7 linked regions of the Homo sapiens genome follow. The protein of the gene in region 6 purifies or fractionates together with the protein of the main gene of each other region. This does not show direct contact. Each region holds a gene or a part of one and is shown on either strand. Other genes may lie near its edges.

Region 1 (3,500 bases), on a different chromosome or scaffold from region 6:
TTTGGAGGTCACTGATCTTCACAGCCATCCTGTTGGCTTAATATCTTTAAAATTCTTAGTGAGGCACCACTTTGAGGGTAATGTACTATGAGAGAACAATTGCTCCCTCGTTACCCACCCCTATTGCCTGACTTGCGTACTGCTCTCCCCAGCTCCACAGCTGCTAATAAAATTTAGAAGCAGGATTTGAACCCAGTACCTATTGGGTTTTAAATATCCATACTGATGGCCGGGCACTGTGGCTCACGCCTGTAATCCCAACACTTTGGGAGGCCGAGGCAGGTGAATCATTTGAGGTCAGGAGTTTGAGACCAGCCTGGCCAAAATGGTGAAACCCCATCTGTACTAAAAATACAAAAATTAGCTGGGCATAGTGGCATGCTCCTGTAATCCCAGCTACTCGGGAGACTGAGGCAGGAGAATCACTTGAACCCAGGAGGTGAAGGTTGCAGTGAGCCGAAATCGTGCTTCTGCACTTCAGCCTGGGTGACAGAGCGAGTTCCTGTAAAAACAAAAACAAACAAAAAACAAAAACAAACAAACAAACAAAAAAACATACTGTCACTGAAGCTGAGCAATGGACCAAGAAGGTGGGAGCGGGGGTGGGGGCTGGGGGGAGGTCTGAAGTTTTATGATACTTTGTCACTATTTTAATGAGGCTGGTATATTTGTATCCTTCTGTAAGGAAATGGTTTCTCATAATAACATAAATCCTAAATCCTACAGTCATGAAGATTTTAGTACTGGAAAAAGAATCTTGGGTTGGAAAGGCAGCTGACCAAGTGATTCTGGTGTCTTCTGAGTTTCCCCTTGCCCCTTGGGGTATCTCGTTCTGCCACCCCTTTAGTTGGCTCCCATGTGTGCACCACCGGCTCAGCAGAGGCAGTAACTTCTTTACTTGGTTTCCCTCAGTATGAGTAAAAAAGTTGGTGAGTTAAAAATACTTTTAGGGTTTTAAAAAATTTTTACAGCCTGGCCCATAGGGTGAAACCTGTCTCTACTTAAAATACAAAAATTAGCCAGGCATGGTGGTGGGCGCCTGTAATCCCAGCCACTCGGGAGGCTGAGGCAGGAGAATTGCTTGAGCCTGGGAAGCGGAGGTTGCAGTGAGCCAAGATCATGCCACCACACTCCAGCCTGGGCAATAGAGCGAGACCCTGTCTCAAGAAAAAAGAAAAAAAATTATCTTTTACTTTTGAGATAGGGTCTTGCTCTGTCACCCAGGCTGGAATACAGTGGTGCAATCACGGCTCACTGCAGCCTCAACCTCTGGGGCTCAAGCCATCCTCCCACCTCAGCACTCCCTAGTAGTTGGGACTATAGTCACATGCCAGCAGGCCTAGCTAATTTTTTTTGGCATTTTTTTTTTGTAGAGACAGGGTCTCACTATGTTGCCCAGGCTGGTCTCAAACTCCTGGACTCAAGAGAGCCACCCGCCCTGGCCTCCCAAAGTGCTGGGATTACAGGAGTGAGCCACTGTGCCTGGCCCTAAAAATAATTTATTAAGCACATAAAGCACTCTATGCCAGACACTGTTCAAAGAACTTCATGTTAACTCATTTAATCCTCCCAGTTGTAGCTATAAAGGAGATGCTAGTATAAAAAGTTCAAGAAACTGAGGCAAAGAGCAATTTAGTAACTTTTGGGGATTTGAATCCAGGTAGCCTTTCTAATACCAAGGGAATAAAACAAAATAAATTACATGCAGTTTAAAGCAGTGGCACTTCTGTCATGTTTATCTCTTCATTTCCTAGAGCCAAATCTTTCCCAGGACTTACATAAGTAATGTCCATTCCTTGTCCTGTTTAAAGATAGTACCATCTAGCCTCAAAGAACTGATTATAGAATTGGGTCTGTAATTTGTTTCTGGAAATTGGTGTTCTGAAACTATTTCCCCAACAAAACACCTAGAAATGCTGAATAAAATATAAGAAAAATCTTTTAATGTATAAATGAGTGGTGAGGAAACAAAAATGAAGAGAGAATAGAGAACTAGGGATGATAGCTGGTGCTAACCCTATGGCTACGTTGGAGTTGCTTGATGGTCTTGACAACGAAGATTTAACAGGTGCCTGAGCGCAGGCGATAAGGAGTGAGACCACTGTATAGTGAGGAATTAGAATAAAGACCTCTATATAAAGCCAGGACTTTGAAAACCTAAGCCTTCATTAAAAGGTGGATGTAAAACAAATCAGCCTTCTTGTAAAGAAAGATGACAAGGAAACTTGTCATAGCCTAGGTTCAGGATTGGAGAAAAAAATAATGTCTCTTGAGATGGTGTAATCAAAATTCTGCCTTTTGGAGAGTCTGGGTTTTGAATTCATATTACCTTTACTGGGAAACCCAAGTTGAGAAACTAATAAAGTTGTCCCATGATACCTGGCAAAAACAAACACACAGATACTGCCTTCATGGGAATATCATCAATATAGGCCCATCTATAGATTCCTATAGCTAAAATGCTGCTGATTATGATCACACAATTCAAAATTACATTATATGAGCAGTAGTCAGCAGCAATGACACGGTTCTTAAGTAATAAAAGAGAGAATCTAGGTCTGGGCATGGTGGCTCATGCCTGTAATCCCAGCACTTTGGGAGGCCGACGTGGGTGGATCACCTGAGGTCAGGAGTTCAAGACCAGCCTGGCCAACATGGCGAAGCCCTGTCTCTACTAAAAAATACAAAAATTAGCTGGGTGTGGTGGCGGGTGCCTGTAATCCCAGCTAGTTGGAAGGCTGCGACATGAGAATCACTGGAACCTGGGAGGTGGAGGTTGCAGTGAGCTGAGACTGTGCCACTGCACTCCAGCCTGGGCAACAGAGCAAGACCCTGTCTCAAAAAAAAAAAAAAAAAAAGAGGGAATCTAAAAAGAAATTTAAGAAGGAATCTAAAACATGAGAAAGGAACAAAAGGCTATCGAGAAAAAACAGGTGTATTTGTAAAAGAATCAAAGATATCTACTAACATGAAAAATATATTCATTGACATGAAAAGCCTGATGGGTAGGTTGAAGAGCAGATTAGGTATAGCTGAAGAGAGAAACAGTGAGGTGGAAAAAAAAGCTGGAGAAATTATCCGGAATGAAGCAAAACAGGTAAACATATGGAAAACATGGAAGAAAAGTCATAAGACATGGAGGATGGAATGATGGTTGAATATACATCTGATCAGTATTCCAGAAAAAGAAAGTAGGGAAAAGGAGAGAGAGGCAACACTCAAAGTGATGGTGTCCTAGGATTAATTTTTAAGGATTGATGAAAGATTCAGAGTTAAGCATTCCAAGGAAGATAAATAAAATAAATTTATACCTGAATGTGTCATACTGAAACTGTAAAATACTAAAGACAAAGTGACAGTCTTAAAAGCAATCAGATAGTAAAGGAAATGTTATCTATAAAGTCTTTGCTACAAAAACAGTGGGAGCCATAGACAGCGAAATAATATTTTCCAGGTTCTGAGAAACAAACAAACAAAAAACAACCATCAGTCCTGAATTA
Region 2 (3,500 bases), on a different chromosome or scaffold from region 6:
GACATAACACGGTTAAGGGTGTATTACTTTCTAGAAGATCTAACATACGGTATGAATATGTGTAGTAAGTGCATATTTTACATATACACACATACATGAACCACACATATACACTATAGTGTAAGGGTTATTAACACCCCAAGGGATTTGCGAATGTGAAGATAAGAAAAAAATTACACCTTCATTTTCTTTAACTTCTAACCAAAATCTGGTATCTCTTTCAATTATGAATGTAGGCAACAAACTGTGATAATATTAGCAGGTTGTATGACTTTGTCTTCAATAGAAATCATAGGCATTTTCATGTCATATGACAGTTGTGGAAGTTATCAGAACTCTCATTATATCTTGGTATTTAATGCATGAATAAAGAAGCAATACCGCTATATCATACACTTAATTTTAAAAGAAATTTTGAAAACTATATATGATTGGTTTCCTTTATAATATTATGTATTTTATTGTATGCACTTATAAATATTGTTCTGAGAAGGGGTCCATAGGCTTCACCAGTCTGTGAAAGGGTCCATGATAGAAAAGGTTGACAGCCTCTGAGAGTGTCAAAGAAATGGGAAGTAAACCTGTCCCTAGTGATCTCTGTTTCTTAAGTATCGGAAAATCCAAGTGAGGTTTAGACATGTCCTAATCTCAATCAATTCATGGTTAAATTATCTCATCAGAGAATTTGATGTTATTTAGTTTCAAGTATTCAGTCTAGGTGTTCAATGAAACATAGGTTTAGATCAATGTTTCTCAAACCAGAATTTACAGACATACTTTCAGGGGCCCAAGAATTTGAGGGGAAATTTTGTGTTTTGATTTCTATGAAAATGTAAAGAAAACTCAAACACGCTCTTGATTATTGAGAAGATAAAATATATAACCTACTATTGTTCCTGATTTTAGGGCATTTGTTTATATTTATGTTCTTATTGGCTTTAAGTAACATTACTTTAACTGTCTTGTGCTAATGAGAGAAGAACAGAGGCAGAAAATCTTTCAAATGAAGACCAAATCATGTAAAACACATGATACAAATGAAGCTTTCAGAATAGTTACAGTAGATAAAAAAAAAAATACTAGCAAGTCAGCTTCAGAAAATGCAGGCTGAATGCTCAACAGCATGAACAGTAGCAGACAGGTCCACATTCACTTTGGCACAACAAATTATTAATAGTAGACGTCAGCCATATTATAGAACAATCTTTTTTTGTAATTTAGATTCTACTTGACAATAAAAGTGCTTTGGTTTTGAGTTACGAAAAAGCTCTAATCTTAAGGATCTTATTGAGTTTTTAATTTATACACTAAAAATGATTTAAACACTGGAGGACTGTGGTATATGTGTGTACATATGTATGTGAGGTGTATGGACAAATCTGAGAAATACTACCATTGTAGTGCAAAAGCAGCCATAAACAACACATAAACCAATGGGCATGCTGTCACCCAATAAAACTTACAAAAGCTGGTGCTTGGCTGGATTTGGCTCATAGGTCATAGCTAACTTATATCAGCTTTATAATAAAGACTTTAATCTGTTCAAATACTGTATCCTGATGCAGCTTCTAGGATGTTTCAGTAGTCTGAGATAAAAATTATGTATCATAGGGTTGGTTCACACTATAAAAGCTCTTTCCTTATGTTATCTGAAAGCAATCTGAAATAATTTATCTCCTGCTTATGTTATTTGAAAGCTATTTGAAAATAATTTGAAAAACCACCTTTCTCGATTGTTTTCTGATTCTCCCATTTCCTACCTTTACCAACTACCATCCTAATATCTTCTACCAAAGGGGTCAGCAAAGTATGGCCTGCAGGCCAAATCCACTGCCGCCTGTTTTTGTATATAAAGTTTTGTTGAAACAGCCATACTCTTTTGTTCATGTACGTTTCTGACTGCTTTCACACTGCCAGAGCAGAGTTGAATAGTTTCTGTAGAGAATGTATGTTGCATTAAGCCTAAAGTATGTACTATCTGGCCCTGTACAGTTTGCCAAACCCCTGTTCTACAGCATTCCCACCATAGGCTCTCCTACACACCATTGTAGTTGAAGTAGTAGCAGTAATTCGAAAGGACTAATTTTATGTAAATTAGCATTCTAATCAAGGCAAAGGCTTTATAAAAAGATAAGTGGAAATAGTAAAGCATATGACAATTTATTAAGAAGACCACTTGGTATTTTAACTCATAGAAATTATAGTTTAAAAAATTAAACTATAATTGTAATAGCCTTGTCAATCAATGGTCTAGTATATACATTTAATATACATCCAGTTACAGTAAAAAACTTTACTAAACATTAGTATCAATGGCGTTTTTACCATATTGAAACATTTGTTTTTATTATCAATTATATCGATTTTAATTAAAGTGTAGTGCATAAAATTATTTAAGCATTAAGGCTGATGATGCTTTATGCTTGGTTGTAATTTCCACTCATCTGTCAAAATGAACAGCCTACTGGCCAAGCCAGGGACTTCTACAGAAGAGGACAAAGGTAAAGGTAAGGTTTAAATGCCCCAAGTTATGACCTTTTTCTCACATTGATATAGATGTGAAGCTTAACATTCAGTAAAATGAGATCAGTCTTATTCACTATTTCTTCTGCAATATGAGTGCCAAGCTCTTAGGGGTGAGAAAGAGGACAGAAGACTGAAGAGTCCAGTGTGGGAAAATGTGCATGTGAAGGACAGGCTGATGACACCACAGTGAAAGGAGGAAACGAACTCTTAGTCTCAGTGCTCTCCACGTTCCCAAGAGTAAAAAGTCTACAGAGAGGATACACTAAATTGTCTGAGACAAGTTACACTAAGAAGATGTCAGCTTTATGCTTAGGCCATAGGGTCTCTTCTCATTGTACATTATTGAAGCAGTTTGCAACTGGCATTGCAAACAATTTTTTAACTTATAACACAGTTTCCAAGTTTGCACATGACTCAGAAATTCAAAGTTATTTTGTTTATAATATTTGTCTTACTCAATGAATTACTGAATTACTCAATGAATTACTGAATTACTCCATGCATTCCAAATGGAAATGAAGAAATAAGATGGAGTTATAGGTAGTCTGATAAAACATTTAAATGACCCACTGTTTATGTGGCTTTTAGTGAGCATATTATTGATGCACTATTAACTGTTACATTTTATTAATCACTAAAATGCTTTACTTCTCCACAAATTTTTTTAGTTTTCCTCAAAATGTGTAGAACAGGATCCTTGATCTGCCCCAAGGATCAATCTTCTTACTAGCACAGCTTAATGCAAACATTCATGCTATATAAATTCAACTGACCACTATAATACACCTGGACTAAAATGTAGTCCCACAGTGTTGGACTACAACACGGAGAAAGGTACTCCAAACTTACACATTTGCTATGGTCCGTTATTACTCTCATGGGACACTCTACCATACTCTACATGTAGTTCCAAGTTCTGTGATTTTTTGAAAAAACCTCTCAGCAGAGAATGTAACTTTATGTTAGACAAACAT
Region 3 (3,500 bases), on a different chromosome or scaffold from region 6:
AAGCTTTAACAATTTCTATATTATTGGTCATTGTAAATTAGTATTTAGTTTTATAAATGTAAGCTCAAACTTGAATATTTTTAAAAATTACAAGCTGCTTTTTGTAAAAAGAATTGCTTTGAATTGAACCACCATTAAATTTAATTCTAATAGATTTTTCCTATTCTACCTTTTCATACACAATCCTACCAGCCACCCACTCCTGCAATTCTCGACCTATACTAACTTTAAGATTCCAAAATGCTAACCCAGGGGAGGGGAGAGAGATATTTATTGGCTATGCAAAGAGATATATAAAAATATGTAACTAAAATTATAATTGGCAGTAAATAATCTTAGCATTTAGTGAAGGATTCTACCATGTTAAGGATATGTGAAAAAGATGCTTAAGGCAAAATCAAGACCAGATAAAAAGTATAGCATCTACTAGGGTTCGTGTGATTAACTTGTCACATAAATATGTTTAAGACAAAATGATCTAGTACTAAAAACTATTAAAAGGGTCTCCTGCTGACATTTTATCACTAAACATGTCACACTGCTTTTCTTTCACAGAAAAAGACAACTAAAAATTATTTACTAAGAGCAGCAATATATAACCTTATCCCTTAAATAACTCATGCTTTCCTTTTATGTTTTTCATATCCCAAAATAAAAACTTTGCCATCTATATCACATTCCAAAAACTAAACAAATGACTGTATCTCACTGAGGAAGAAGGAATGTTTCAGGATGTATTTTATAGTTTTATTGAGTATAGTACAAATTATGAATGAATATATTTTCTTTAAAAACATGTTATTGACAGAAATCTATCAATAATAATGTGGGTATTGTCAAGGGCCTGTCAATATTAACGTAATTATGATTAAGGGGATAACATGGATTTTAGCTATAATACCATGTAACATCTCCTACATCGCTGCTATCAATATACACATTATTATTGACCTGTTCCAAGACTCTCAGTATTAGAGGTATTACCATTAGGCATATTTGTCAATGCATACTGTCTACAAAATTCTGCATTTAAATTTACAGTCCTGTAAACTTTGTCAGCAGAAACGTGATTCTCAAGTAATCTCTACTGTGTCATACCCACTCATGCACCCCCTGCCAGGCTATTCTTTTCCATCTCCACAATAATAAACTAAGTTTTAGAATGAAAATGTCACTGCCACACCATCTTAAATGTTCTGGCAATCAAAGTGGATGAGACCACGTTCATTGTTTTCTCTTTCTGAAAATGTTAAACTAGCATTTCATATTATGAGGTTATATGAATAAAATTCTATGACTAGACATCTTAAGTTTTGAACCTATAACCTACTATTTTATTTCCTTTGTGTAGTCAGATAGATTTACTGTCCAATGTATTGAAATCAATACTAATAAATGGGACGTGCATCAAAGAGGGATTTAACTGGACACTGATTCCCAGAACACGTTTCAAATATGGGCAAAAGAAAAAAGGCTATGGCTGAAGCCCATTAGAACACTGTGACCTCTGGCACTGTGAACAGGCCTAACAACTCTTAAGTTCAAATCCCGCTTCTGTCACAGACTTGCTAAGTGCCTTGTCACTACTTTCTCGTTCCTCTCTTTCACCATACATAAACTAAGTTTTAATAGTTTATAGACACCTGATGTTGTAAATCCCAGTTGTGCTCATTTGGGTATAGCCAAGATATGTGAAATTTTAAAACTGTGTTATGTCCAACAGACCTCTAAATTACTTTTAACTTCAATGAACATTGCCTCATCAAAATCCAAATAGGATTTTTCTTTTTGAAGTGGTAGTGGATACATGACAAAACATTTCTAAAATGTATCTGAAAGATAAACTTCAAAGTTGCACATATTTCTCAAAAATATGGACAATGGTAAGTAACCTGCCCTAGAAGAGGGGAAAATATCTTTTTTTTTTTGCATTTAGGGAGAAGAGGAAACTCAACACAACTCAAGATTATATTGAGTCTTACACAATCAACTGAGTGCCTTACTTATCTCATACACAATATAGTTATTCAAGTATCTAAAACTAGCACAAAATACTTTTTTTAAACCTTAGAAAAGAATTTCCAATACTTGGGCCTAGCTTTATAAGTATATTTTTAAGATAACAGCATGGCACTCATATTTTTTTCTTTCAGAAACCTGATACTTCTGAGTCTGAGAATGCTTATTGTGAAAATAAAGAACAGATGTTGGAGCGAGTATTGGGGAAAGCAGAGTTAAACTGCCTCTGATTAGCTCTGTATTCTAGCCCAGGTTCACTAACAGATTGTGTGACTCTAGACAAGTCATTTTATTACACTATACTCTTCATTGGCTAAAAAAAGAAACAAAAAAAAGCAACTGTAAGTTTACCTACCTATCTAGAATCCTTATAGAAACTGCTTTAGGAAATCTTGCAAGGGAAAGGGAAAAAAATGAACAGCTATTTCCAATTGCAAAAGAGCAATACAGGACATGAGGAAAATAGAGAAATCAGAGCAGGACACAGGAGACAGAGACAGTATTCATGGAGAGTAACAGTAAACCACTAAGGAAGACAATCCCAATGAACTTGTTAGTTTACAACCAGAGAAAACACTTAACACCTACCAGTTACTGAGTGCTAACAAGTGACTACTATAGCTAATTACCAAGTACAAATTTAAATATTAAATCATTTAATCCTTATAATACTAATAAAGAGCTTCTGTTATTACTTCTGTTCTAAAACAAGGAAATTGAGGTGCAAAGAGATTAGATGACTTGTGTGAAATCCCATGACCAGAGGGGGCAGAACCAGCTCTAAACCAGCGTCCTATACTGACAACGCGGTAATGGACCCAAAAGTTAAACATAAACACTTTAGGATGGTACCACAGGTCACACAGATGGGGCTACCTTAAAGAGGCCAAGTACTAAGAGTATAGGCACAAACTATGGGAAAAACACTAGTGCGAGTATGAACAGGACACACATGAAATGTATGAGCAGCTAGATGTTTAAATACTCTATAAATAATTTAAAAATGGGCTTTAGAATCTAATTGCTTAAGAATTCTAAATGACTTGAAAATAACTGGAACAAACATTTAATTGCACATTTTATGGTACAAGAGAACACGGAAATATCCCCAAAGGAACAAAGAGCCATTAGCAATGGAATAGGAGGAACTACCATGTGATACATATCATGTACAAGGCACTACAACTTTTCTTTACATTCTTTATTTCATTTAATCCTCACAACACAGTAAGTACAGTATTATCATCTCCATTTTAAGAAGATAAAAATTAAGGCTTGAGAAGATTAACAACCCATCTAAAGTCAAGCTGGTAATAAGTAAATTTATGGTAAACATCAGAAAAACTGTAGAACATACAAAATACACTTAGTAGAATGGACATTTGCTAAGCTTGGATCAAATTTAATCCCACAGAACTCAAAAGAAATCTTTTTCCCCTTCAAGATCATTCAAAAGACCAGACTGCCAGTCAAGCTGTCAG
Region 4 (3,045 bases), 8.1 Mb from region 6:
GAACAGGTGGCCGCAGGGCGTGGCTGTTGGGTGCCTGCGCTCCTCCAGGCACAGGGTGCACAGGGGGTTTCTGGAAACGGCTCTCTCCTCCAAGGAGGCCCTGGGGAAGGTGGGGCAGAGCGTCAAGGTGGGTGCACCTTACAGGTCCTTGTGAAGTGCCCAGGACACCCCCAGCCCCCATGTGTGGCCCCCGCACGCACCTGCGGTGAGACAGGCCGCGGTGCAGCCTCCACTCCTTCCTGGCTCGCTGCCGCTGCCTGAAACCGTACAGCTGCAGCCCCATGGACAGCACCAGGTGCAGCAGTGAGATGACCCCCAGCAGCCTGTAGCTAACACGGGCCCTCAGGTCCTCTCCGGGCAGGCTGCGGACACGGAGCTGTAAGGCAGATGGCGCCACACTCATCAGGACCCTGAGGGGATCTGGCCTCAGCGCCTGCTGGGAGGGTCACACGTTCAGTTGGCACAGAGCACGTTAGAACCAGGCCTCTCACTGGCATGGGGAGTGCCCGGCAGAAACGATCAAGCCAGGGGGCAGGTTCAGGGAGTCTGAGGTGCCTGCTTCGTAGCCTAGCATGACGGAGAGGCCTGAGCTCCAGACCAGCCTTGGCATTACCAGTGCAGAAAGAGTCTTAGCTATGAGGCTGGCAGAGCAGGTGAGGATGTGGGGATGTCCAGGGACCACCTCTCAGAAAAGGAGGCGGGGAGCGGAAATGTGGGGCTGCAGACGCTGCCCACCAGCTACCCTGCTACAGGGACCGAAGCCCCAGTGTAACAAGGCACGTGGCCCCAGGGACACTGCTGCCACCCTCCTGCTGGTGACACAGGTAGCTTCTGACCGTGCCACTGAAGGACAGCTGGCTGCCCTCGGCTTCCCGTGTCACTTTCCACTGGCTGGGAAATGGAGACAGCCAGACAGCCTCGGCCCAGGGCCGGGAACCACATACAGAGGTGGCAGGTCACACCGCCAGCATGGGCCCTGGGTGTCCAGCCACTTCCTGGCTGTCCTAGGAGAGAGGGAGCCTCCCATCTGGTTTGAGCCCCACTTCCATGCCCCTGTCACAGCAGCTCATCAAATCCCTCACCAACATGGACGGGGCAAGAAACCACATCAAATACGCAAGTGAGGCTGGGTACGCTGAGGACGAAGACCTGACCATTGGCTCTGCGACGAGGTCACGGTGGCCTCCTGTTTAGGGTGTGTGTGGAGGCGGGGTTGCCTGGCAAGTAGGGGCTGAGGGGACCAGTGCAGCTCTAGGGACAAAAGGAAGGGGGTTCCTCAGAGGGCTGTTCTGGAAGGAGCTCATGCAGTAGTGGCTCTGGTGGGCCAGGGACTAACGCTGTGGCAGGTGGACATGGTGGTGGGACCACGGGGGAGGCTTCGTTGCTGAATCTGGAAGCAGGGGCATCAGCTGGGGGTCAGGATAGGCAGAGGTGCCAACGGCTGTGGAGGGGAGAAGGTGGGAACGGCCGTCTGATGGGGCAGACTGCTGGGCCAGGCAGGGGCGAGGGGTGAGGGGCTGGGGCCGGGGCTGCAGTCCATGCTCCCACACTGTCTGGGAGAAGCTGTTTGTTCCCCACAGCAGTGACATAGGCAGTCACGGGCCCAGGTTCAGGGATCTGTGGTGAGGCGTGACCCGGGGCCCCCCGGTCAGTAAAGAGCTAAGCGCAGGGCCCGGTGTCCATGAGGGGCTGCAGCAGGAGTTCATTCTACACTTAGGGTCTGGACTTCCTTGGATCTTTCAGCCAAGTGTAATTAAACAAAATCTGCTTTTTTTCCAAGCAGAGGATTTGGGTTCCTGCCTTGACACAGATGCTGGATGTAGAACCCTGTTGGCTGAGAGGCCTGGAGGGCCAGCTCTGTGCATGCACCCAAGTCCAGTGGGGGTGACAAGGACGGCCTAAGCAGCTGTGCCCTCAGCGCCTGCTACTTACGTACGTGATCCCCGTGAGCCTCTTGGCCAGGTGGTAGAAGACACCGTGGATGTAAAACCAGGCAACATGTAGCCGCTGGAGGCAGGCGAGGCCCTGTCTGAGGACGAAGACCGCCCGCAGCAGCGCCCTCCTCTGCTGCTCAGTCAGGGTGGCCGTGTGGTGACGCATCCAGCGCCGCGCCCCTGAGCAGCCACGCCCACCTGGCCCCAGGCTCCCCTGCAAGGGTCGCCCACTGTCGGGGTCAGCCTGCAGCTCCTGCTCCAGGGGGAGCAGGGCCTTGTCCAGCAGGTAGGGCAGGACGGCATGCAGTGTCACCAGCACGCCACGGCGCAGCGAGGAGGGCACATGTATCCGCGATGGGTCCACCTGGATGATGCTGACGTACTCCTCCCCCAGGGTCTGGTAGCCTGCGAGGAAGAGGATGGGTATGTGGACCCTGAGACTGCTGCCGCGGGGACAGGCTCCCGGCGCCCCTGCCAGCCGACCCTCTGCTGGCTCCTGTCAACAGCCCCATCTTGTCGCCCTTGAGCCCACTGTCACCCCGTGCTGGCTGAGGCCAACATGACCTTCTGTCGCTAAGCCCACTGTGAGCTCAGGCAGCACATGACAGGCCCGGCCAATGGCTGCCCTTGGCTCCCAGGGCCTTGGCTGGCCAGTGTCCCTCCCTCTCTTGGCTTCTCCCCAAGAGTCTCTGCTCTTTCCCCTTTCTCCCTAGCTGTCCCCGCCACCTCCCCCAGCCCAAGCACTCGGATCCAGTCCCATGGCTCTCCACCAACCACACAGCTGGCACCACCCGATTTATGCCCAGCCTGGACCTTACTTGTGAGTGCCAGCCATGCAGGTCCGCCACCTACCTGACATCGCCATGTATGCTCAGATGAGCACCCCAATTCCACCCCTGCCGAGACAGCTTTCAGCGCCCCCACCCAGAAAAGCCTGCTCCCCGTTTCCATCTCTGTGGATGGCAACGCCAGGCCTCCGGTTCCTGAGGTCAAGCCCAAGGGGCACCCTGCATGCACCTTCCCTGTGTGTTCCACCCCCTCGCTGCCGCCCCTGCTCTGTACCACCACCATCCTGTGGGGGACTGTCACAGCCTCTGTAGTCTCCCTGAGC
Region 5 (3,500 bases), on a different chromosome or scaffold from region 6:
CTGCTGACCCTCTCCCCACTATTACACTATTGTCCTGCCACAACCCCCTCTCCAAGATGGTAGAGATAATGATCAATAAATACTGAGGGAACTCAGAGACAGGGTGCAGGTCCCCTGGGCCCACTTTTCTTTCTCTATACTTTGTCTCTGTGTCTTATTTCTTTTCTCAGTCTCTCGTCCCACATGACGAGAAACACCCACAGGTTGTGGAGGGGCAGGCCACCCCTTCAAAAATAATCAATGTCTTACCATCTGAAATTTATGAAAACAACAGAAATACATCACATCAAGTCCTCTGGGTGAATTTTTTTTTTTTTTTTTTTGAGACGGAGTCTTGCTCTGTCACGAGGCTGGAGTGCAGTGGCGCGATCTCGGCTCACTGCAACCTCCGCCTCCCGGGTTCAAGTGATTCTCCTGCCTCAGCCTCCCAAGTAGCTGGGACTACAGGCGTGTGCCACCACACCCAGCTAATTTATGTATTTTTAGTAGAGACAGGGTTTCACCATGTTGGCCAGGATGGTCTTGATCTCTTGACCTCATGATCCACCTGCCTTGGCCTCCCAAAGTGCTGGGATTATAGGCATGAGCCACCGCGCCTGGCCGGATTTGTTATTTCCCAATAATTTTAGTCATCTGGGTAATAATAGGCACCGTTACTATGCTGCCTAGTCATGAAACACAGTGGCTGGAGCAAATCAGGAAGGAATTTCACTTCCTCTGGACTCTGTTGAGTACGGCCTTGAACAAGTCACTTAAATCTTGCAGGGTCAGTGTTTCTCCATATGCAAAAAGAAGAGACTTAAGGGTGTGCTATGAAATATAAGAATCCTCCGAATTTTAAACAAGTGCATTCTCAGTGTTTTGGGCATACTTGGAAAAAAACAGCTTGCACCAAGTACTAAGAACCTCACCATTAGGAAGAAGAAAATTTTCAGGAACTGTCCAAGTTAAGAGACTACTTAAAATCAAACTTATCAATGACAGGTATCTGATCATGATAGATAAAAGCTACAGTTCTAAGATATGATCAGGACATGTTACCGATGTACATACAGAGGAATTATTCACTGCATACAAATTATAGGGTTGTGGGGATTTTGTTTTGTGAGAGTTCTCAAATTTACCAATTTCATAAATGAAAACTTGGTAAGGATTGCATAAAATTGCATAAAGATGCAATTTGGTGGACAACACGTCTTCACCTCAATTTGTTAAGAGAACCTGGGTTGTAATAAGAGCCATGAAAAATGGTAAGGTCAACTCAGACATGGTGGTGCACACTTGTAGTCTCAGCTACTAGGGAGGTTGAGGTGGGTGAATCACTTGAGCCCAGGAGTTCAAGGCCAGCCTGGGCAACATAGAGTGATCCGGTCTTAAAAAAAAAAAATGTAAAGATACATGTAACTTACCCTGGAGTTTATCTTACGTGATACAAAGCTAAAGTTGTTGCTAAATTTTGTTATTTTGTTACAGCATTTGCGCACTGATGCCCTGTTAGAGAAACTGAAAACCATATTAGGTTAAACATGACTTTAGAGAGGCTGGCAGACAGATTCCAAAATAAAATGAAGTTCTAATTTAGAATGGTTGTACTCTCTATCTTTACTAAGGTGTCCTGAGATGCCTATACACTCTGAAAAGATGCTGTTAGTTACATAAGTGGACGGACATTTATGGAGGGCAAGATTGCAACTGTCACCCAAACAGCTACTATAGAATGAGCACAGTAAAACCAGGGTACAGATTACCCATAGTACTTATTATGTTGTTGGAAACTGCTTGTTAATTTGTCTTCCTGGTCGCTAGCCTGCAAGCTCCATGAGGACAGAGACAATATGTGCCTGGTTCACTGCTGGATCCCTGACATACAGTATGCACTCAATAAATATTTGACTGACTGAATACAGAGACACCATAATTCAAAGTCTAGTCATGAGCTTTAGAAATGTAAGTTCTCGTGTCATCTATTCATCTAAAGATGACTGGGATCTACTAATTAAATTCACAAGGACCTGATCCAATAAACAAAGGTCCTAAGTGGGAGATATTAACTGGAATAACAATTGATGTTTGTCATCTGAATATAGCATCTTTTACTGGTCAACTAGGTGATTAAACGTTAGAACAGAGGGTATTTTGTGAGAAGAGCATTAAAGTATAAGTAGTAGAAGATTTTAGAGAAAACATTGTTAAGTTACAGTTGACTGATCCTTACTCTGTTTAAAGAACAGATAATCTTTTACAATCAAATCACCACCTCAAATCAGTACCAATAAATTTTTTACAAGCCAGCCATTTTTCCTTTTTCAATATTCTGCATCGGTTACATCAGAATTCTACTCTTTTTTTTTTTTTCTTGAGATGAAGTTTCGCTCTTGTCCCCTAGGCTGGAGTGCAATGGCACAATCTCGGTTCACTGCAACCTCTGCTTCCCAGGTTCAAGTGATTCTCTTGCCTCAGCCTCCCAATTACAGGCACACACCACCACTCCCGGCTAATTTTTGTATTTTTAGTAGAAACAGTGTTTCACCATGTTGGCCAGGTTGGTCTCGAACTCCTGACCTCACCTCAGGTGATTCACCTGCCTCAGCCTCCCAAAGTGCTTATAGGCATGAGCCAATGCGCCTGGCCTAGCAACTCCACTCTTAAAGTATTACTCTGTGTTATAATTTAAAACAATAAATGTTCTCTTTTTGCTACTTACGTTTTAATTTGTAGAATTCCAAATATGATTTTAGAGTTACTTTAAACTCAGTAGCTACAAATTTACAGAGTTTGGGGGAAATGTCTGTAAACTGTTAATTCCATATTTTGTAAATCCTTATTTATGCTCTATGTGTTCAATAATGCTTCCTTACCTGATGCCCAGATAATGAGGTCTTAGCTTTATCTTTTGGGTTTATAGCCCTGTACCTACCTAGCACTACAGGAGAAATAGGAAGGCAGCCAAAAGGAATACCTTAGGGCATTGATTTTAAACCTTATTTTGGTACAGACTACTAAGAGAACTTAATGAAAGCTTCCACGACCTTATTCCTAAAAACATGCATATACAAACAAATGTTGATATACTTTTTTGGTTATTACTAGATCCCCTAAATCTTGATCATAGGTCCCAGGATAAGTATTCTTGCCTTAAGGGCATAACTACACACAATTTCAGATAATGTAGCTTAGTACTGGTTTGACATTAATTTGGAATCATGCCATCAGGCTGACAAGATGCCAAAGGCGAAGCCATCAACCAAAGAATGGCTGAACCTATAAAAGTTAAAATTGTTTAAAAAAATTAAAACCAATCAACCAACTGTTGGGAGAAGCTAAAGCAGGGCTTGCATGTCTCACTTAATGTAAAAGAGTCTTGGAACATGTCCAGGGTCCAGGGTCTAAAACCCCTCATGGCCTTGGGAACACCAAGCTCTGTGCTAAAGGGCAGAAGGCTGCCCTGCAGCACCATAATCTAAGCCCAGGGCATAAAACCCTTCGTGGCTTGAATGGAA
Region 6 (3,500 bases):
GCGATCTCGGCTTACTGCAACCTCCGCCTCCCAGGTTCAAGTGATTCTCCTGCCTCAGCCTCCCAAGTAGCTGGGGCTACAGGTATGCACCACCAGGCCTGGCTAATTTTTTTTTTTAAGTAGAAATGGGGTTTCACCATATTGGACAAGCTGGTCTCAAACTCCTGACCTCAGGTAACCTGCCCACCTCGGCCTCCCAAAGAGCTTGGTATTACAGGCGTGAGCCACTGCACCTGGCCTTAAATGAGTTATTTATGTAAAAATGCCAGAACAGTGCCTGAAACAATGTGTTGTCTATTATTATTATTATTCAATTTAATAAGCTCTGAGTTTTCACTCACAAATGGATCTAAACCTTTCTTCAAGTTCTATTACGACATCTTTTGGGGTATGATTTTTCATGTGTTGACTACTTGTCTAGTAAAGTTCTTTTATTCAGAAGTAATTCCTTAAAATTTCAAGGAATGCCCTGAATGCTAGTGTTTATTCTAGCTGTCCTTCATGACTTTTGCATTTCAGGAACATACTTACTTTTTCATAATGGTATAGTCTTTTTAGTCTATCCTCAAGACGACTTGCTGGAATTTCATTTATTGCTTCCTTTGTTCTGTGTTCCCCACATTGCTCTGTTTTATGTGGTTGATCTATTGATTGAGACAGGGTCTCACTCTGTCACCAGAGTGCGGTGGTGTGATCATGGCTCACTGCATCCTTGCCCGCCCAGGCTCAGGCAATCCTTTCGTCTCAGCCTCCTGAGTAACCGGGACTACAGGTGTGCACCACCATGCCTGGCTAATGTATTTTTTTTTTTTTTGAGACAGAGTCTCGCTCTGTCGCCCAGGCTGGAGTGCAGTGGTGCGATCTCAACTCACTGCAAGCTCCGCCTCTCGGGTTCGAACCATTCTCCTGCCTCAGCCTCCAGAGTAGCTGGGACTACAGGCACCTGCCACCACGCCCGGCTATTTTTTTTTTATTTCATTTTTAGTAGAGACGATGTTTCACCGTATTAGCCAGGATGGTCTCGATCTCCTGACCTCGTGATCCGCCCACCTCGGCCTCCCAAAGTGCTGGGATTACAGGTGTGAGCCACTGTGCCTGGCCTGGCTAATGTATTTTTAAAACAATTTTTGTAGTGGTGAGTTCCTGGCTGGGCGTGATGGCTCATACCTGTAATCTTAGCACTTTGGGAGGCTGAGTTGGGAGGATCGCTTGAGGCCAGGAGTTTGAGACCAGCCTTTGCAATATAGGGAGACCTCGTTCCTACTGAAAATTAAAAAATTAGCCAGGCATGGTAGTGCTTGCCTGTGGTTCCAGCTACTTTGGAGGCTGAGGTGAGAGCATCACTTGGGCCTGGGAGGTTGAGGCTGCAGTGAGCGGTGATTGTGCCATTGCCCTCCAGCCTGGGTGAGAGAGCAATACCCTGTTTGGGGACGGGGGAAGAGACAGAGAGAGAGAAAGTGCTGAGATTATAAGCATGAGCCACCACGCCCAGCCAGCATGGCTGATCTCTCATTGAAGTCCTTTCTAGTGTGTACACGTTGGAGCCCGTAGGAATGAGAAACGTTATCTCTATTTCCCAACTTTCCTACTAGCTTTTCTTCCTTCGCTGAACAGCAGAGGCATGGTTCAATCTGATTACTTCACAGTTACTGAGTATCGAGTATTATTGCAGAAGGTAGATTTCCTATCTGTGGAGGTTCACTGGGTACAGTAAATTTTGCATTGAGAGGCTACAGAAGCAGGCAGGGAGAAGAGCAGAGTGAAAGAGTGGAAGAGCATGGCTTCGCATCCTGGCAGGTTTTGGTGGAACTTCATCACTCACAACTATTGGACTTATCACTCCACCTTTCTGAGTATGTTTTCTCCTCTGTAAAACGAGAGCAATAATAGTTACCCTTAAAGCTGGGTGTGGTGGTGCATGTCTGTAGTTCCAGCTACTCAGGAGACTGAGGCTGGAGGATTGCTTGAGCCCAGGAGTTGGAGTCTGTAGTGCACGATGATCACATATGTGAATAAACCCCTGTACTCCAGCCTGGGCAACAGAGTGCAACCCTATCACTTAAAAAATAAATAAATAAAATAAAAAATAATTACCCTTTTAGTGTTGACTGAAATCACAGATGTGAAGAGCACCTGCTGCATAGTAAGTGCTCAGAGTTAGTTTTCTTCTCCCAGTCTTTACATGTAGTTTTGAGAGTCTGTTGAACTCTTGAATAACAGCAGGTCAGACAAGGTATTTGCCCTCTCAATGTTTTTTTTTTTTGTTTTGTTTTGTTTTTGAGATGGAGTCTCCCTCTGTTGCCCAGGCTGGAGTACAGTGGCTCAATCTCGGCTCACTGCAACCTCAGCCTCCCAGGTTCAAGCGGTTCTCCTGCTTCACCTGCCTCAGCCTCCTGAGTAGCTGAGACTACAGGTGTGTGCCACTACGCCTGGCTAACTTTTTTTTTTTTTTTTTTTTTTTTGAGACGGAGTCTTGCTCTGTCTCCCGATCTGGAGTACAGTGGCACAATCTCGGCTCACTGCAACCTCTGCCTCCTGGGTTCAAGCGATTCTCCTGTCTCAGCCTCCTGAGTAGCTGGGACTACAGGTGCCCGCCACCATGCCCAGCTAATTTTTTTGTATTTTTAGTAGAGATGGGGTTTTGCCATGTTGGCCAGGCTAGTCTTGAATGCTTGACCTCAGGTGATCCACCTGCCTCGGCCTCCCACAGTGTTGGGATTACAGGTGTGAGCCTGGCACCTGGCCTCAACTTTTTATTTTGAAAAATTTCTCACGTATAGAAAAGTTGAAAGGATAATACTGAGAACTTCTGTAAAATTCCCATAAAAACTTAACCAAGATGCACTGTTCACATTTTGCTGAATTTGCTTTATGTCAGTCTCTCTCTCTCTTTCTCTCTCTCTCTCTCTCTATATATATATTTTTTTTTTTGGAAGGATTTGTGGTAAGTTACAGACATCAAGGATATTTCATCCTAGAATATTTCACCTTATCTCTCATAAGAGTAAGGTTATTCCCCTGTATAACCACAATATCATTATCACACAAGAAATTTAAGTGTTGATAAATAGTATTATTTAAAACAGAATCTGCACTCAAATTTTCACACTTAAAAAAAATCAGAATCTAGTGAAGAAACAGAGATTGCATTGATTTGTCTCTTTAGTCTTTTTTTTTTTTCCTTTCCTTCCTTTTTTTTTTTGTTTGAGACAGAGTCTTGCTCTGTTGCCCAGGCTGGAGTGCAGTGGTGCAATCTTGGCTCACTACAACCTCCGCTTCCTGGGTTCAAGCAATTCTCCTGTCTCAGCTTCCCAAGTAGCTGGAATTACAGGTGCCCGCCACCATGCCTGGCTAATTTTTTTGTATTTTTAATAGAGACAGGGTTTTGCCATGTTGGCCGGGATGGTCTCGAACCCCTGACCTCAAGTGATCCACCCACCTCGGCCTCCCACAGTGCTGGGAGCCACCGCGTCCAGCCTTAAACTTTGTTTGTTTGTTTG
Region 7 (3,500 bases), about 84 Mb from region 6:
TGCTTTTTAATGCCAATAAATGTATTAATAAAATATTAAAGTCCAAATAATTTAAGCATAGAGTAAATCATATAATCCACTTTTATGTCAATTATTATAGTACCATTATAGTGGTGAGACGGCTACATCTATTTACAGATATCAAACTAGCTGATTATGCTTTGATGAGCTTTATTTTCAATTTTATACTTTATTAACTTAACTGCATTCACTCGGGCCTGCTAATCTAGCAAACTGATAAGAAAGGTGTGTTTAAAAAAACACTTTTCCATTTCTCAATCTTGTGGCAAAAAAATAAAAAATAAAAAAAAAAACAAAACACCTTTTAGCATACTCCTATTTTACCTAAGAAGGCTTCAAACCATCTTAATATTTATAATAGTTCCACTGTATTACATAAATAGCAGTTATCCAAAGAATTTTATCCTTAACTTTATAGAAGGCTATATTCTTGACAGAGATGCCTAAAACAAAAGTGACTTACTCTTAAAAAGAATGTTATGATGAAAGCCATGTTTTTAAGCAAGGGCCTGATGCCTAATTTTATGTAGAAATAATATAAATGCCATTTTAAACAACAGTTACATAAAAATCTTTCCAAAAGAACTAATAGGGTCGAGCACAGTGGCTCATGCCTGTAATCCTGATACTTTTGGGAGAACAAGGCAGGCGATCGCTTGGAGACCAGAAATTCGAGACTAGCCTGGTCAACATAGTGAAATACCATTTCCCGTAAAATTTTACTTAATTTAGCAGATAAAATTCCAAAGAAAATGTAGGAAGATCCTATCTTTCTCCTTCATAATTCAAGTTCATATTACATTGAAACAGATTAGAAGGTGATATTCATCAGGTCATGGATGAGTGTGATGTTGATCCTAGGAAAAAAGTTACAACTTACTTATCTAAATGGGCAGTATGGCATGGGTACTTAGAAGGAAGTGGTAACTTTTAGGAGAAAATATGAATTCACCAAAAAACTATGTCAGACTAAGGTCATTCTTTTCTTTGAAAGGGACCACGAAATTTTTGTAAATTTTGTTCACTATGCTACAAAGCATTTGATGATAAACAAAATCAGGGTTTCTGCCCTTTCCATGTAAGAGACCAAGGCTAATACAGTTCTAGGGTCTACCTTCACACCTCTGTGACAGGAAAGAAAGACCCTTCCCCACACCAGCTCCAGCAGAAACATCCCAAAAGAGGACTCTGGCCCAGTATGCATCAGGTTATGGATACTGTCAGAATGCCAGGTCTACTACCAGAAGGAAATGTGTGAAAAGATGCTGGTAAGTTAAAAATGAGAGCCAATACAATAACCAAAGGGTGTCAATTAATAGAAAGATTATAGTGGTGTAAACATACTGTTCTATACTCAGTCCTGTCCAATCAGTTTTTTAAGTTTGTTAGGAAAACATACAGAAGGAATAGTAATTAATTGTGCAGATCAAAAAGTTTCAGAGGGAAGAAGTAATGTGCCCAACCAAAAATAAGTATAAAGACCTGCACCCAGGTTTAAAAAAAAAAAAAAAAAAAAAAATTCAGGCTGGGCGCGGTAGCTCTCACCTGTAATCCCAGCACTTTGGGAGGCCGAGGTAGGCAGATCACCTGAGGTCAGGAGTTCAAGACCAGCCTGGCCAACATGGCGAAACCCCATTTCTCCTAAAAATACAAAAAAATTAGCTGGGTGTGGTGGCGGGTGCCTGTAATCCCAGCTACTCGGGAGGGTGAGGCAAGATAATCACTTGAACCCGGGAGTCGGAGGTTGCGGTAAGCCAAAATTGCACCACTGCACTCCAGCCTGGGTGACAGAGCAGGACTCCATCTCAAAAAAAAAAAAATCAAACACATCAAGGTGAGGAGGGGGAAAGAAGGGAAAACCATTGTGAAAGCTAAATACAAGTGAAAAATATTTGAGAGTCATAAAAATGAATGTAACTTCATGCTATTTTAATGAAAGCTTAACATCTTAGGATCTTTAATGAAAGCTTAGGACAAGGTAGGTCACAGTTCTCTGCTAGTGTGCCAGTGAGAAGACACTTTGAATGCCGAATTCCATTTAGCAATGCCTCTTTAAAAGGTGGAGAAATAAAGACTGTCATATTCAGGAAGCAGCAACTGAAAAAATACAGAAACCTAAAACCATGTCACATAAAACTAACTTAAGATACTTTCCAACTCTGAAAGTAAATGATTCTATCAATTGAAAAAGGCTTCCTTTGGGAGATTTTCATGGGTGTATCTGAGGAAATTAGGAAGGCTCGGGAGTTTTTAAGAAGCTAACAAAGGTATGTTTTGTTGTCCTTTTAGTTTTCTTTTAGCAAGCATAGAAATGAGAGCTACCTTTTATTTACTGAGCACTGGGTTAAAACGTTTTCTCCATTAATCCTCACTTAACTGCTGAGTGAGTGAGTAAATACTACTATCCCTGTTCTACTGAGGTTCAAAGAGGTTAAGTAAATTGACCAAGGTCACAGATCTGACAAACGGCCAAAGGAAAAATTGAACCTACATCTGACTCTAAAGACTATTCTTTAACACTATGCCAAACTACCTCCATAATAAAGATCAAGTAGCTGCACAAAAAAATGTTCATTTTTGCAAATTATAAAATACGTGCAAATTAAAATAATCTTTCAAGACTATTTTGCATCCGTAAAGTAGAAAAAAATTTAAATATCCCCTAATGATGAGTAGGTAATTAAGTCAGCATTCATTCATAGTACTGCAAATTGGCACAACTCATGAAAAGTAATACATCAACCTGTGTAGTTTAAGAATGCCCACAGTTTCCACAAACACTAAGGAAATTCATAAGCCTCCATTCATTAATCCTACTTCTGGCAATTTATTCCAAGGAAGTTATTCAGCAGAGATGAAAATGTTCACTTGCAAAAATACACCAGTATAATCCATAAAAATTCCAGAGACAGTCTAGATCCTCAATAGCTAACAGGAAAATAAACTAAGATATTGTCACACAGAGGAATATTTACGTATTTCTTTAAAAGTATAGTTATGAAGGTCATGTACAGGGAAATATAGGAAAGAGGTATGCTTTAAATGAAAATAACAAAACATGTACGTTATAACTGTAAAAATGCACATAAATACAGAATAAAAGGAAACAAAAATAAAACAATATTTGTATTATGGTTATAACATTATGGATGATTTTTAATTTTCTTAAATTGTCTTTAATGTTTACACTCTATTAAACTGTCAAAAGCAGGTGATGATAGCATTTTTTTAAGTTTCTGAGACTTGCTTTACCTGTACATATAGGGGGTATAAGTGGTCCAGCTCCTAAAGAGCTCATAAATATACTAAAGACAACATTTACATTTGTAGCAAAAAGAATGTGTTATTTAAAACAATAGTAACCACAGCCCCCAAAAAATGAGAATCTCATTTGTTGTTGTAGAGTCAAACAAATATGAGTGTCTACTATATATTCCAGCCACAGTTCTAGCCACTGGGGCTATAACTGTGAATAAAAT

Evidence for each region.
Region 1: the proteins of PEX14 (region 6) and EVA1C purify together in Homo sapiens (co-immunoprecipitation; one large-scale study listed by IntAct). This does not show direct contact.
Region 2: the proteins of PEX14 (region 6) and PEX3 purify together in Homo sapiens (co-purification; one study listed by BioGRID and IntAct). This does not show direct contact.
Region 3: the proteins of PEX14 (region 6) and PEX2 purify together in Homo sapiens (co-purification; one study listed by BioGRID and IntAct). This does not show direct contact.
Region 4: the proteins of PEX14 (region 6) and PEX10 purify together in Homo sapiens (co-purification; one study listed by BioGRID and IntAct). This does not show direct contact.
Region 5: the proteins of PEX14 (region 6) and TCP11L1 purify together in Homo sapiens (pull-down; one large-scale study listed by IntAct). This does not show direct contact.
Region 7: the proteins of PEX14 (region 6) and ABCD3 purify together in Homo sapiens (co-purification; one study listed by BioGRID and IntAct). This does not show direct contact.

The regions. Positions count from the first base shown.
Region 1 is NC_000021.9:32,419,206-32,422,705, forward strand, and holds part of EVA1C (protein eva-1 homolog C isoform 1 precursor), read left to right. Parts: intron 1-617; exon of another isoform or gene 618-3,500. UniProt on the Homo sapiens protein: Binds heparin.
Region 2 is NC_000006.12:143,485,305-143,488,804, reverse strand, and holds part of PEX3 (peroxisomal biogenesis factor 3), read right to left. Parts: intron 1-3,500. UniProt on the Homo sapiens protein: Involved in peroxisome biosynthesis and integrity. Assembles membrane vesicles before the matrix proteins are translocated. As a docking factor for PEX19, is necessary for the import of peroxisomal membrane proteins in the peroxisomes.
Region 3 is NC_000008.11:76,993,579-76,997,078, forward strand, and holds part of PEX2 (peroxisome biogenesis factor 2), read right to left. Parts: intron 1-3,500. UniProt on the Homo sapiens protein: E3 ubiquitin-protein ligase component of a retrotranslocation channel required for peroxisome organization by mediating export of the PEX5 receptor from peroxisomes to the cytosol, thereby promoting PEX5 recycling.
Region 4 is NC_000001.11:2,406,520-2,409,564, forward strand, and holds part of PEX10 (peroxisome biogenesis factor 10), read right to left. Parts: intron 2,340-3,045; coding exon 1,933-2,339; intron 437-1,932; coding exon of another isoform or gene 377-436; coding exon 201-376; intron 101-200; coding exon 1-100.
Region 5 is NC_000011.10:33,046,072-33,049,571, reverse strand, and holds part of TCP11L1 (T-complex protein 11-like protein 1), read right to left. Parts: intron 1-3,500.
Region 6 is NC_000001.11:10,477,950-10,481,449, forward strand, and holds part of PEX14 (peroxisomal membrane protein PEX14), read left to right. Parts: intron 1-3,500. UniProt on the Homo sapiens protein: Component of the PEX13-PEX14 docking complex, a translocon channel that specifically mediates the import of peroxisomal cargo proteins bound to PEX5 receptor.
Region 7 is NC_000001.11:94,424,889-94,428,388, reverse strand, and holds part of ABCD3 (ATP-binding cassette sub-family D member 3), read right to left. Parts: intron 288-3,500; exon of another isoform or gene 1-287. UniProt on the Homo sapiens protein: Broad substrate specificity ATP-dependent transporter of the ATP-binding cassette (ABC) family that catalyzes the transport of long-chain fatty acids (LCFA)-CoA, dicarboxylic acids-CoA, long-branched-chain fatty acids-CoA and bile acids from the cytosol to the peroxisome lumen for beta-oxydation.